Homo sapiens: one gene and its partners. The protein of the gene in region 4 interacts with the protein of the main gene of each other region in a pairwise test. Each region holds a gene or a part of one and is shown on either strand. Other genes may lie near its edges.

Evidence for each region.
Region 1: the proteins of ANKS1A (region 4) and GPRIN2 interact in a two-hybrid assay, tested with the Homo sapiens proteins (one large-scale study listed by BioGRID).
Region 2: the proteins of ANKS1A (region 4) and NADSYN1 interact in a two-hybrid assay, tested with the Homo sapiens proteins (one large-scale study listed by BioGRID).
Region 3: the proteins of ANKS1A (region 4) and NHLRC2 interact in a two-hybrid assay, tested with the Homo sapiens proteins (one large-scale study listed by BioGRID and IntAct).

Annotation. Positions count from the first base shown.
Region 1 is NC_000010.11:46,541,236-46,543,947, forward strand, and holds the end of GPRIN2 (G protein-regulated inducer of neurite outgrowth 2), read right to left. Parts: 3' UTR 501-2,712; downstream 1-500.
Region 2 is NC_000011.10:71,498,203-71,502,316, reverse strand, and holds the end of NADSYN1 (glutamine-dependent NAD(+) synthetase), read right to left. Parts: intron 3,966-4,114; coding exon 3,789-3,965; intron 1,016-3,788; coding exon 965-1,015; 3' UTR 501-964; downstream 1-500. UniProt on the Homo sapiens protein: Catalyzes the final step of the nicotinamide adenine dinucleotide (NAD) de novo synthesis pathway, the ATP-dependent amidation of deamido-NAD using L-glutamine as a nitrogen source.
Region 3 is NC_000010.11:113,857,661-113,861,160, forward strand, and holds part of NHLRC2 (NHL repeat-containing protein 2), read left to right. Parts: intron 1-867; coding exon 868-1,020; intron 1,021-1,026; exon of another isoform or gene 1,027-2,342; intron 2,343-3,500. UniProt on the Homo sapiens protein: Required for normal embryonic development.
Region 4 is NC_000006.12:35,084,755-35,088,254, forward strand, and holds part of ANKS1A (ankyrin repeat and SAM domain-containing protein 1A), read left to right. Parts: intron 1-1,011; coding exon 1,012-1,182; intron 1,183-2,197; coding exon 2,198-2,295; coding exon of another isoform or gene 2,296-2,317; exon of another isoform or gene 2,318-3,500. UniProt on the Homo sapiens protein: Regulator of different signaling pathways. Regulates EPHA8 receptor tyrosine kinase signaling to control cell migration and neurite retraction.

The sequences.
Region 1 (2,712 bases), on a different chromosome or scaffold from region 4:
GATGCGCAGGGACGGTCCTGTCGGTGAGGGTGGGACTGTCCTCGGGGCCTTGGGAGCCCTCCCCCGCCCCGCCCCGCCCCGCCCCACGGCGACTCCTCCCTCCCGAATCCCCTCAGGCTCCGAGGGTCCCGGCTTGGAGCGAAATGCCCACCAGGAGGCGTCGGGTCCTGTCACGGGCCGCGCCGCCCAGGACCACGCCTGGCCCGGGACCCACGCCAGTCCGGGGACACACACCTAGCCGCAAACCAGACCGCGGGATCAGCCGCAAGCCACCCTCTCCAGCGCCGCCCTGCACCGCAGATCAGGGTAGGAGATTAGAGTAGGAACGCGGAGGGGTGGGGGAGGGGTGGGCGAGGGGTGGGGGAGGGGTGGGGTGGGCGGAGGGGCCTATCTGCTCCCAGTCCCTATGACACAGGGACTAAGAGTACCTAAAGCCCTGGGAGAGGAGGAGGAAAGGTCAGGCAGGGACTAGGCGCAAAATTTAAGGCAACACTAAGTGATTCGGTAACCAAGATAAATCATATTTTAATTATTTTAAAGCAGTGTTTTAAAATAAAAACTAATGAAAAAATGATAAAATATCAAAAATTTCAATAAAGCAGCATCCGACTTCCTGCCCAGCTGTCCTACGGTATCCCAGGTGCCAGCCCCCTGTGTCCACACCCCTGCTGGTTCCTGCCCCACCCCTTCCCCCAGCCCAGGAGGCTTCCACCCCTTCAAGAATTGAAATCTTCACAAGAAGCCCTTGCCCATCTCCCTGAATACCCCCAACTCTGAAGAGAAAAAAAATCAAACCAAAGAGTTTTCCTCAAGAGTTGCAGGCTGGGCTTACAAAAGCCACAAAGCTTGTGTACAAAATGACACCCTTGGCCACCATCTCCCAGTCTGTTGACTGCTAAAAATGAGAAGTGAACAGAGAGAAGGCCAGGCAGAAGGCTGCAGGGCAGGGGCCAGGTGGGCAGCAACAGGGAACAAATCTGAGTGGAGGGGAGAATTCTACCCCTCCCAGGGTTCCAGCCCCAACAGAGGCTCCCTGCTTGGGCCTTGCTCAGGCCTGGGAGGGTGATATGCTTTGGCTGTGTCCCCACCCAAAATCTCATCTTGAATTGTAATCCCTATAATCCCCATGTGACAAGGGAGAGATCAGGTGGAGGTGATGGAATCGTGGGGGCGGTTCCCCCATGCTGTTCTTGTGATAGTAAGTTCTCACGAGATCTGATGGTTTTATAAGTGTTTGGTAGTTCCTTCTGCATTCATTTTCCTTCCTGCTGCCTTGTGAAGAAGGTGCCTTGCTTCTCCTTCGCTGTCTGCCATGATTGTAAGTTTCCTGAGGCTTCCTGTAAGTTTCCTGAGGCTCCCCGGGCCACGTGGAACTGTGAGTCAATTAAACCTCTTTCCTTTATAAATTACCCAGTCTCAGGCAGTTCTTTATAGCAGCATGAAAATGGACTAATATGGAGGGGTCAAAGACAGAAATCTCCTCCTCCAGTCCCTAGCCTTGGCTCTTGGACACGAATCCAGTTCCTGACAGCAGAGAAGCATACAGGTGGGACAGTGCAGTGTGTCCCCACAGGGGCTCAGGCCACACCCCAACCCAATTACAAGCCATGCAAGAAGATTCTGAAAACATGGATGAGGAGATGGCCTGCCTAAAGCCAGCAGATGGGTGCCACCCACCTGATGTACCTCTCTAGCAGCCTAGCCAGCCAGCCACCAACAAGGGCCACCAAAAGTTAGGACTGATGGGGTGCCCTTCCAGCCCGACCAAAGTCCTTCCATTCACCCAGCAGGGCCACTGACAACTGATTTCTCATTCTGGGCAAAAGCAATGGAAACTTGGCACAGCAACCCCAGGGAGACCTCCCTCTGTAAGGAGATGCTCAGATGTTTTGGTTTGTGTCCAAAGAGGGGAAGGACAGGTGGAGAGAAAGGGCCTAGACCCATGTAAATCACAAATGCCAAGACCCAGACACAGCCACAGCTGGGGGCCTGGTGGGGGGAATGGCCAAGACCGCAAGAAGAGAGACTACTGTATGGAGCCAGAAGGCGAAGGCAAGTAAATCCTTGGCACAAAGCAGGAGGAGGCAGGAACAAGTACAATGGACAGTGGGGAGGCAGACAGGTTCTGAATAACCCAGAACAAAGAGAACATGAAACCACAAAAGAAGAACAGATTAAAGAGAAATGGGGGATGGGGATGACAGAGCACCCAGGGCAGCGGGTGCAGGACCAGCAGAGGTCCCCCGACTGTCCTTGGCTGTGTGCACACAGAGGTGCTGCAGTCCTGGGGCCATGTTCATAGGATGCAGAGAAAGCACACTCTGTCTTTTCTCAGGAAAGCTGCAGGGAAATGAAAAGCTCCAGGCAGGACAGACTGGGCGATGACTGCATGGCTAAAAGCGCACACCTTAAAACTAGACACACTCCCCTGCCCTGAGCCCCAGATGTCAATGGACATATTCCCACAATTTTCACATTCCCTCCCAATAAAGTAGGGCCATGAAAGATGAATTTTAGGATATCCACTTGGGGAGCTCGTATTTTGGGGCCAGACCTTCCTCCTTGCTGGGCTATCTCGGGCTTGGAGTGGGAGAAGCCAGGCAGGAGTCCTGGAGAGTGACCGCACAAGTGAGCAAAGGCGGCATTCACCCAACTCTTGGGACAAGGCAGTCAGACCCCACCACCCATCCCCAATCCTATGGGCCCACGTCA
Region 2 (4,114 bases), on a different chromosome or scaffold from region 4:
CACTTTCTGCTATCCCGACAGCACCTCCTGGGAAATTCACCCTCAGCTGTGGTCTGTGTCCCAGCCCGGGCCCTGGGTTTGGTGTGGGGCTCTAGGTGAGGCTGGGAAGCAGGAGTGTCCCAGGCAGAGGGGCCAGACATGGGGGAGAGAAAGAGCGGACACCCGGTGGGCAGCACAGATCCCAAACCCACTCCACTCCCCTGGAGGCTCTGGCCTGTGCACCCATCTTCGTCTCATCTTCACCCTGCAAGGATGGGAGGCTGAGACTCCCTGGGGCAACCCGGGAGAGAGGGTTCCAGGACCAAGGGGAGCTCTGGAGAGGACAGAAAAGCCGCTCCTCACCCCATTCCATAAAGAGACAAAGGTGCCCAGAATGGCATGAAGATCAGCAGGAAGGGGGACCCACAGTGCCACGCCCCTGCCCCACACCTGGCCCCATGCCTAGATGGGGTGGTTCTCCCACAGGACAGGAGTAAGGCCGACTGGTCCCCAGACTCCCAGGAAGAAAGCTCTGCAGGGACCATCTCCCCAGAACCTTCTGGAACCCAGGACAGGAAGGTGTGTGTGGGTGGGAGAGAAGGTCTTCTCTCCTTCATTTTCTGCTCATGACACCCCTCCCTTCCCGGGAGCTACTGTTCTTGTTCCTGCAGCAAAGATGCCACACGGGGCGGCGGTTGGAACCCTCCTACCCAGGCGGCTTCCTTCGGAGAATGCCAGACTTCGCGGGGAAGCGCACGCTGGCGGGAGGTCAAAATCATGTGCATTGGATTCCAGCCTCTTTTTAAGCCCAGGCTTTATTCCAGCCTCTTTTTGAGGAATTTGACTGAAAAGTTCCCTCCCTCTCGGCTGATGCGCCGTCCCATCCTGGGCTCCTAGTGTAGGGCTCCTACCCTTGGCTCCAGCAATGCTGATGATGAGGTGCTGGGGTCCCCGAGGACAGGAGGCCTCCAGGAAGGAACCGGCCTCAGTCCACGCCGTCCAGGGACTGTGGCTCTGCCCTCTCGAGCTGTAGCACCTGGAAAGAGAGGCCTGTGACACCACAGCCCCGCAAAGACGGACTGTGGGGCTGTTGAAACACTGGCACGCACCAAAAGCGGGTCACAAGTCCCAGAGGTGAAAAAGTAAATTACCAGAGTCCCCACCAGATGCTGGGCGTGTGTGCTGGAAAAGCCTGGAGGGGCGGGTCCAGATCACGCATAGCTGTCACTGCAGATGACAGCAGCGTCTCCACCTTTACCTGCAGCTGTCTCTGATGCTCCCACATGCGTCACTCTTTTGGCTGCATAGTGTCTGAACCCCCTTCCTGATCTGGGGGAGCCCGCCCCTGAGTACATCTTGGTGGGAGCCAAGCCCCCACCTCCCACTACAGAGGCCAGAGCTGGGGCAGCTCCCTCTCCTGCCCTGGGTGGCCAGATGACAGGGCCCATCACCCGAGGCTTGGCCACTCCACTGCCTGGTGACCCAGGGACACTGGGACTCAGGGATGGCAGAGCAGATTGGCATCCAGCCCAGGCTGGGTGTGGCGTGTGGGCTCCGTCCAGCCACAGCAGGGGATATAGGGCAGCAGCCACCTGGCCTGAGTCCCAGCTTTCCAGACCCTGTGACCCCTGCCCTCCCTTCCACCCTCTAAGTCACTCTTTGAGCAAGTTCCTTTCCACGGAAATCAGCCAGATACAGTATCTCTTCCTTACAACCATGCAGCCCCAAACGTCTTCTAGTCCCAAATGTTCAGCATTCCTCAACCTTGGCACCACCAACACGTGGAACAAAGAATTCTCTGCTGGGTGTGGGGTTGGGAGGGGCCCATCCTGCACACAGTAGGACATTCAGCAGCATCCCTGGGCTCCACCCACGGGATGCTGGGAGCACAGACCCCAGCCCAGTCATGATAACCAAAATCATCTCCAGTCATCGCCTAATGTCTCCTCGGGGGGTCAACGGTCCCAGATGTAGAACCCCTGCCACTGATCCACCCTCGTTTTACAGGCCACCTGCTCAGAGATGCTGTCACCGATCATGAGGTATAAAGCGGCATCTTGTGGCCTCTAGCTCAGCACAGGCGGGTTTTCCTCATGTCCTTAAGGAAGAGTTCAAGACATCTTCCTGATTAGAAGGTTACTACTCTGTGGTCATACAGCACCTGTGTGTGCCTCTGTTGTGCACTGATCACACTGTGCTATGGTCTCACAGGTGCTGGAAGGACACTAGGTGTCCTCTAGCTCAGTGTAGACTCCTCAGGATTTATCACTGTTTTTAATTTTTTTAATTTAAATTTTGTTTTGCGACAGGCTCTGGCTCTGTCACCTAGGCTGGAGTGCAGTGGCACGATCACAGCTCACTGCAGCCTCCATCTCCTTGGCTCAGGTGATTCTCCCTCCTCAGCCTCCCAAGTAGCTGGAACCACAGGTGTGCACCACCACGTTTGGCTAATTGTTGTATTTTTTGTAGAGATGGGGTTTTGCCATGCTGCCCAGGCTGGTCTCCAACTCCTGGGGTCAGGTGATCCTCTCAAAAGTGCTGGGATGGCAGGCGTGAGCCATTGCAGCCGGCCTCTGATTTATCATTGTTGACAGTGACTCACTGGCCGGCTCTCTCCTCTCGTCAGATGATCCCCTGCGCTAGGGAGGCCATGGCCAAGCTGCTCTGTCATGGCTCCCAAACTGGCTTTGGAAAAGGGAAGGGCCTATCCTTTTTCATTGATTGTATTGTCCTTTCTTGATTCTATTAATAATTAATTAGAAAAAGAAAAGGAAAGCAGGGTGGGTTGGAAGCCATGACGCCATCTGGATACCCTGGCTACTTAGAAACGACAGTGATTGTCACCATACTCATAGAGGGGTGTCCAGCTGCTAATTTTAGTTTATGTAATGCCAGCAAATAGAGCCTAGCCAAAAGGAGTGCATGCCAGACTCTAAACACACTCAGCAATTAGTGTAGCCATTGTGGAAGGCAGTGCAGAGATTCCTCCAAAGATTAAAAATAGAACTACCCTGCGATCCAGCCACCCCATTACCGGGTATAACTGACAGGAAATGAACTCATCTGCCGACGAGACATCTGCACGCCCGCGTTCACCACAGCGCCATTCCCAACAGCACAGCTGTGGAATCAGCCTGAGCGCGCACCGATGGATGAGTGGATAGAGAAAGTGCGGTGCACACACAGTGGAGAACTATGCAGCCTTAGGAAAGAAGGAAATTCTGCCATTTGCAACAATACGGATGAACCTACATGAACATCTTAAAGGGAAATAAGCCAGGCAGAGAAAGACAAATACCGCATGGTCTGATTCGTCTGTGGAATCTTGAAAAGGTGATCTTGTGGAAGCAGAGAGTGCGACGGTGGCTACCAGGGGCTGGTGGGTGGGGAGATTGTTGGTCAAAGGCCACAAAAGAAGTAAGTTCAACAGCTCCAGTGCATGACATGGTGACTGTAGTTAATATAGGAAAATTGCTAAGAGAGTAGATTTTAAGTGCTCTTACCACACACAAATAATAGGCGTGTGGGGTAAGGCACGCACATGTGAAATAGCTTGACTTAGCCATTCCACTGTGACACACATATCGAAATGTCATGTTGGACACCATCAATATATAGAATTTTTATTTGTCAACACGAAAAAAGTAAATTTAAAAAACGCTTTAAACATACTTGTCCCTTTGCAGAAAGGAGGACAGTAAAAAAGTTACTGTGTATATAAGAAAGTTTTTCAATCCTTCATGGAAATAACCTCACGTTTCTTCTACAGACATGAAACATGGAGAGAGAAACATTTCTGCTGGATTTACCTGATTTTCTATGCACCGAAACTGCCAAGGCCAGCTTGTGTTGTACAGAAATGGTCGCAGATCAAACCTGTTGTCCTCAGGGCTGTAGTTCTCGGCGTGGTACGCGGGTGTGAGCGTGGTCATCTTGTGTCTGTTCATGGAGTACTTGGAGAAAAACCGCTTCACTTTGTCAGCGACCTGGTGGGCGTGCAACACACGAGCTTCATGTTACCAAAACTGGAGAGACCCCAGGCCGGAATTCCCATGCTGGATCATACAAGCAAATGACTAATGGGTTACTCCCCGCACAGGACCTTCCACGATGGCAGGTGTGGGGGATGCCCGTG
Region 3 (3,500 bases), on a different chromosome or scaffold from region 4:
AGGGATGCTGTACTTTATTATTAGTTAACAAAATCTTTCTTCATAGTACAGAGCTTTCTTTTTTTGGAGGAAAGGGAACACGTTCTTCATTAATATTAATGTTACCTCAATGAAATCTGTGACAATAATAAGTGTATTTTGCTTAACTTTACATTTAGCATATTTTATTTTGTATTTACGGTCTCATCCAAATCCAGAATATTTCAGTTTCTTCTCCTTTAGGAAACTGTTTTAGGCATTTTGTATGTTTATCCTTACACACATTTCACTCCTTTTTGATGTTTAGTTATATCTTACTATTCTTAAGCTTGACCTTTATTCTCAGTAGCCCATTTGTATCTAATTGTTTATGTAATTAGGTTCATTTACTATTTGATATTTCTTCCTTTTTTTTTTTTTTTGCCTAAGTGTGTTGCCTTTACTCCTTTTCACAGACTGTTACCCTATTTCTGAAAGAATTTAGTAGCTTTTTCTTGCTTTATTTGCAGATGGCATCATAATAGCAGCTTTCCCATCCTCTACTCCTCCTGCTCCCCCACCCGTACCCCCATCCCTTCCTTTTCTTTCTTCCCTTTTTGGGCTTTTAATCTCTGCTAATTTGCCTTTTTGGTATGTTCTTCCAAACCCAAATACCTGTTTAGTTACAGTCATAAAGATATATCTTTTATTTCTTTTGTTGATAGAAAATGATGGTTCATAGTAAACAACTATAAATACATGCAACTGCCACAGCCTTTATATGGTGCTACTCTCTCAAAGTGTTTATTTGCATTAGTCTTAAAAAAAAAGGTCACATTTTAATGGAAAGTTTTAGGTAAATTTTATCTTTCTCTTTAATCATTGTAATTTATTTTATGTAAATTTCAGGATTAGAATGGCTGAACACAGAAGAACCTATTTCTGTCTACAAGGATCTATGTGGAAAAATAGTCGTCCTTGATTTCTTCACCTACTGCTGCATAAACTGTATTCACCTATTGCCTGATCTCCATGCATTAGAACACACATACTCTGATAAAGGTATCTGCTCTTTAATTAGTTTCTAACAGACTGTCCTGGCATAGTCACTGGAAGAGTGGCTGACTCATTAGCTCATAGGAGAATGAACATTTGGCAAGGCTTCAGGGATTCTAAAAGTAATCTCTTATCTATGAATTAAAGACTTCATGTACCTTTTCATAAAGGATTAAGCTTAGTGATAGTGGTTTGCCTATCTAAAGAACCAGCATTTAGTATATGGTTTTTCTCTGCGGATAGGGGCATAATTTGCTATTTTTCATGATCAGATATTTTAAAAGGTCTTTTTGTATGTTGAGGCTGACTTAAATTTGTTCTATTAAAAAAATAAAATATCTGACCTTAATTTTACACTGTTTTCACTGTGATACAAAGGTTTAAAGTTCTTATTAGGAAATGTGACTAGGCTTTCATTAATATTGAATGACATGAACTGCAGTGGAATGCAAAATATAACAGATACTCTTTCTTTGACCCTGCTTCATTAAAAAATGATTTATTACAGCTAATGTTTTTCAAAGCACACTAGGAAATCCATTTTTATGGTATTACAAATTCTAAAGATGTAGGAGATTATACTTATTGGCTTTAGAAGTTTGAAAAATTAATCAAATTTTTTTTGTCTACTTTCTAAAAAAAGAACATGGGAGTAAATGAAATTAATTAAAAGTATCATTTAATTAGGTTCAAGTGAATTGAAGCACTAATCTTGGAGTGGATAAAAAAAAGAGATAGGGTCACCGATCCTGTGTTAGTAAAGATGAGAATAGACTATATACGTGTGAAAGTAAAGGATATTCTGAAACTTAACTTTAAAGGGGAAGTGATAGAGAAATCTTCAGTGCAACTGAAACTTCAGATGCTTTTGAATTGTAATACATTGTATGTTAAAATTACCAGTCAAATGATTTATCAAGAACTCAAATATTTCTACTAGCTAAATCCTGTTATTAAAAATTTATCTGTATGGATTTAAGAAATATGGATATCTTATCTCCTAGGTTTTAGATGCCAGTGTTTCTTGTTCAAGACATCACGTTTATTGAACATGTTGTTATGTGCAGGGTACTCTGCTAACTGCTGAGGAAATATGTAACAAAATTGAATAAAAAACATTATGGAACCTAAGGAAAGGAATAAGTCACTTTGCCTAGAAACATTGGAAAAGATTTCTCAGAGAAGGAGACAATTGAGCTAGAACTTGAAAAATAAGCAGGAGTGCAGCTGAAAATGAAAGTGGGGCAGAAGGGACACTCCTGGCTGAGGAAGCTTCAGGTAAACAAGCATGGAATCACAGAGGAGTAGGATTCTTGCTCCAAGAACAGGTAAATAATTTAGTGTGGCAAGATTGTAAGAGTTCATGGTAAAAGTAAAAGGAGACAAAGGTAGGTTAGGTTAGGAGCACATTGTGAAATGCATTGTATAGCGTTCTTAATAGTTTAGACTTTTCCTTCTGTGAGGATACAGAGATTGAAGTTTGTTTTTGATTTGTTTTTTTAGTAGACGGATGACATTTGTGTTTTAGAATGGCATTACACATGGAGTTAAGAATCTCAAAGTTTACCAGTTCCATACCTAAGATCACCCCTGAAAGACTATTTGGTGAACTCATGGTTAACCCCATACCTTAAGCAGATTCAGTGACTTCCTAGAATGGATCCTTATAATCTCCTACTAGTTTACTGGAAACATTGTTTTTATAGCACATTGTGACAAAAAAATTAAAAATATTTTTATATACAAATATGCTTCTGAAAAGCAAAATACTTTGTAAGTGGAGCAAGAATTCACTGTCAGTTTCAACAAAGAATCACAAAGCATACACAAAGAACAGGGAAGTACAGCCCATTCAAGAACAGGGAAGTACAGCCCATTCAAAGGAAAAAAATAAACCGATAGAAATTGTCTCTAAAAAATACCTGATACATATCTATGAGACAAAGACTTTAAAACACTGTCTTAAAGATGCCCAAATAACTAAAGGGAAATATGGAAAAAGTTTTAAAAAAACAATGTATGAAGAAAATGGAAATACAATAAAGAGAAAACCTAAATAGAAGCTAGAAAGAAATTCTGGAACTGAAAAGTGGACTAACAGTGAGGAGAAACTCACTACAGAGGCTCCTTGACTTATAGTGCAGCTGATAAACCCATGGTAAGTTGAAAATATCATGAAGTTGAGAAAGTATGTTTAATGCTTGGTAGCACAGCAGATGGTCCCTGACTTATGATGATTCGACTTAAAATATTTTGACTTGATGGTGGAAAGGTGATACTCAGTAGAAATCATAACTTTCTAAATCCTAAGGAGCTCTTTGACTTACAGTGAATTATGTCCAGATAAACTCATCGTAAAGTTGAAAAATTATAAGTCATACCCTCATAGGTCAGGGGCCATGTAGAGACTCGAAGACAGATTTGAGTAGGCAGAAAGAAGAATCAGTGAACCTGAAGATAAGGCAATGGAAATGATTAAGGAACAA
Region 4 (3,500 bases):
AGTGGTGCCCTCTTTGGCAGATTTTCTTCCCTCAAATTCCTGCTGAGGCTCGGCTCTGGATGCCACTGGGCCGAGGAGAGTTCATTCTCACACAGCTGCCCACAGGGAGCAGACCAGAACTGACAGCCCACAGGCGGGGGTTCCCTCTAACCTGCAACAAAGCATGAGAGTGGCCCCAGGCTGCTTCCTCACCCCGGGAGGAAGTCAGAGGGGTCCAGGTCTCTGCCGCCCTCAGGGATAGCAGCTGCTTCCAGAATCTCTGTGGCTCCTGGAATACAGGCAGCTCTGGGCATCCCCACACTCCTGGGACCTCATCCACCCCAGTCCTCTGTTTGCTCTGGGCCAGTGAAGGTTAGGAGGAACCAGGCTTTGCTGCTTGCTGGCTGTGTGAGCTTGGAAACATCGCATCTGCCTGCTTCCTCATCTGTCTGGAGGGGATATAATGTGGCCCACCTCAGGGGCCACTGTGAGATGGATGAGGTGGTCCACACAGCACAGTCAGTGGCATTTACCTGTTGCTGACTTTTCCCACATACACTCAGTTCTGCTGTAACGCCACACATACGCTCCTAACAATCACTGTGCTGTGTAAAATCACACAAGGAAAACCACAGGGTTTATGGGGAAATGGAGTTAGGGGCACAGCACTCACAGACTTTGTCGGTGACACATTAAAAATAAAAGCACTAGCACCACTTACATTAAATGGTAAGAAATACCCAAGTACTGCTGCAGGCACGGCACCCTGCCTTGGAAAAGACCTGCCGTAGGCTTACAGCAGTGTGCACCTGCCCTCCCCGCAGCCCAGCTCCCGGCCACATCCTGTGTAGAGCGGGAAGAACAACAGAGACCTAGGAAGAGTAAAGGAGGGAAAGGAGGGAAGAGTGGAAGGAGGTAGGAGCGCTCCCGGGTAGACTTAGAGGGGGACACATGGTCCCTGCGAGGAAGGGCATATCCAGTGTGAAGCGGCTCCTGAACCAGGTGCTTAAGTGGTGATCTGCTTCCTCCCAGAACCTGACCTACGAGATCATCCTGACGCTGGGGCAGGCCTTCGAAGTGGCCTATCAGTTGGCCCTGCAGGCCCAGAAGTCCAGGGCGACGGGCGCCTCTGCAGCTGAGATGATTGAAACAAAATCTTCCAAACCGGTGCCTAAGCCTCGGGTCGGCGTGAGGAAATCCGCAGTACGTGGGCCCCACTGGCCAAGATCCCCCTCTCCCTGGCCCCAGGGATTCAAGGGCTCAGGGTGGTCAGCGTGAGGAGGGTCTTCTGGCACTTCCAGAAAGCTGGCCCTCCAGGGAAATGACCCTCTTAATTGTCCCCCAACCCTGCCAGGTCTCGCCCCTGGAAAGGCAGCAGCTCCTCTGGCCTGGGCGGGCCTCTCATGCTCCTGTTTCCCTCCCTCGCTGGGCTCCCCCAAGGGCAAGGCCGTCAAGGGGCTGCAGAGAGCGGCCTGCAGGCAGCCCCCAGTAACTGCGCCATCCCTGTGTCTGTGTCTGCTTTGCTCTGCACCCCAGGTGCCGCTGCCCCCCGATAGTCGCTGTTGTTACTGTCACACCTGCACCACCCACCGTCCTTCCTACCTACCGCTGCCATCTGTTAGTCCTGGAGTCAAGGTCTTTACGCCTCCTGCTGTCTTGTGTGTCAGTCTCCCCGAAGTGACCGTGAGCGCTCTTAGCCTCTGGCGGCCTCTCCCTCTGCCTGTGTGACATTCTTTCCCCTCTTCCTGAGATGCCCTCTGCCTGTTCTGTGTGTGCTTCAGCCCTCTCTGTTTTTCTGTTGTGTGTCCTCTCTCCAGAGGTCTGGGGTGACTGCTGTGGTCTTGCCTTGGGGTGAGCTCTCTGGGCCTACCAGAGAGACCCGAGGCTGGACATTTGCAAGCCCCATATCCCCTTCCTGCCCAGTGTGAGTGGGTCTGGGGCTTAGAGCAGGAGGCCCGCCTAGGACAGGGGTCCTTTAACTGAGCAATCCCAAGAAATCCCGGAGAGAAGCTGTGCCTGGAGGTGGCCCTCCCCAAGATGCTCCAGGAGGGTGTCCCTCCTCCGCCTGCCCCCAGGGGCCTGCTCTTTGGCCGAGGAGAATAAGGGCTGCCCCTCCCAGCACAGGGGCCACAGCCTGGCCTGGGGGTGGGAGGGGCCTGCTGCCTCCAGCCCTGGCACAGAGCTCCCTCTGACTCTTGACTGCTTCCTTGTTTGGCAGCTGGAACCACCTGATATGGACCAAGATGCCCAATCCCATGCCAGTGTCTCCTGGGTTGTGGACCCCAAACCAGACTCTAAGCGGAGCCTCAGCACCAAGTATGAGACCACTATCTTCTAAAACAACCCACTCCCTGTCTCCACTAGTCTCACTGTGCCTTTGCCATCCGATCTTTCTGCTGTCCTCAACTCTCTCCTTCCAGCTGCTGATGCCAAGGCCCCACCTGCACTGGGACCTGCTCCTCTTGGGCGGGCGGCAGCGTAGACGCTGTACACTTGCAGCTCTCGCACCTACCACCACCGAACACTGTGAATTCTCCCCCTTGGGCTGAGGACAGCTTGAGGGGGTGAGTTGCCTTTGAGGTGGGCATCAAGAGGGCTCAGGGGTTCTGTTGCACCCTGGAAGCCTCCACGGGCAGGCACTGTGAACCCCGACGGGCAGGGCAGTCTCCAGCAGGATCCCAACGGCACTGATAGCTCCCCAGGGTTGGGCTGGGCTCTGTGTGGCTCCCTCCTCCTGTCTGCTGTACTGAGCCACAGCTGGGCACCGTTGCCAAGAGCTAGCTGACTGTTCTCACCTCTCCTGAACCAACCAACCACTGTGACCACCCAGTGCCAGAGTCCCCAGCACTCTGCTCACAGCCGGCCTGCAGCCCCACCCCACTGTCCTCCGCTACTCCGAGGTGCTGGCCTCACTCTCATGGCTAGGCCCTTGTGAGACCTTGAGCTCAGTGATGTGGCTGGACCAGGGACAGACTGCTTTCTGTGAGGGCCCAAGATATGCGCCAGGCCCTTGGGTCCGTGCTGACTGCCCCACTTGGGGCTCTGGGTATCTGAACACTCACAGGCTGGCTCACACAGCAGGTGTCTCAGTCCTGATGGGCCTTCCCCTCCAAGGAGGTGGGTGGCATGTGTGTGGACAGCCCCTCTATCTTCGCCATGGAGTCTCAAGGCCTGGCAGCCTTGGGCCTGGCTCTGGAGTCTAGCTCACTGAGGAGGAAGGCCTTCCGTAGAACCAACGAGGAGGCGGCCTGTGCCCTGCACACACGGCGCACCTTCTTCCCTCACAGAACAGAGCTGCTGGAGGACAGGGACCTGGACCAAGTGGCCTCCATTGTCCTCTGGGAGCTTTCTGACACTCTCCACGGTGGGGGATCACAGATAGACAGCGCCGTCCAGCATGCCCCTGACCACCTCCCTCAGCCTCCTGACTCCTCCGAAAGGAGAGGCCGTCCCATCGCAGCAGCTCAGAAGCTGGGATGGTGGAGCTGAGTCTTTGAAGAGGCACCCCATTCTCCAGTGTG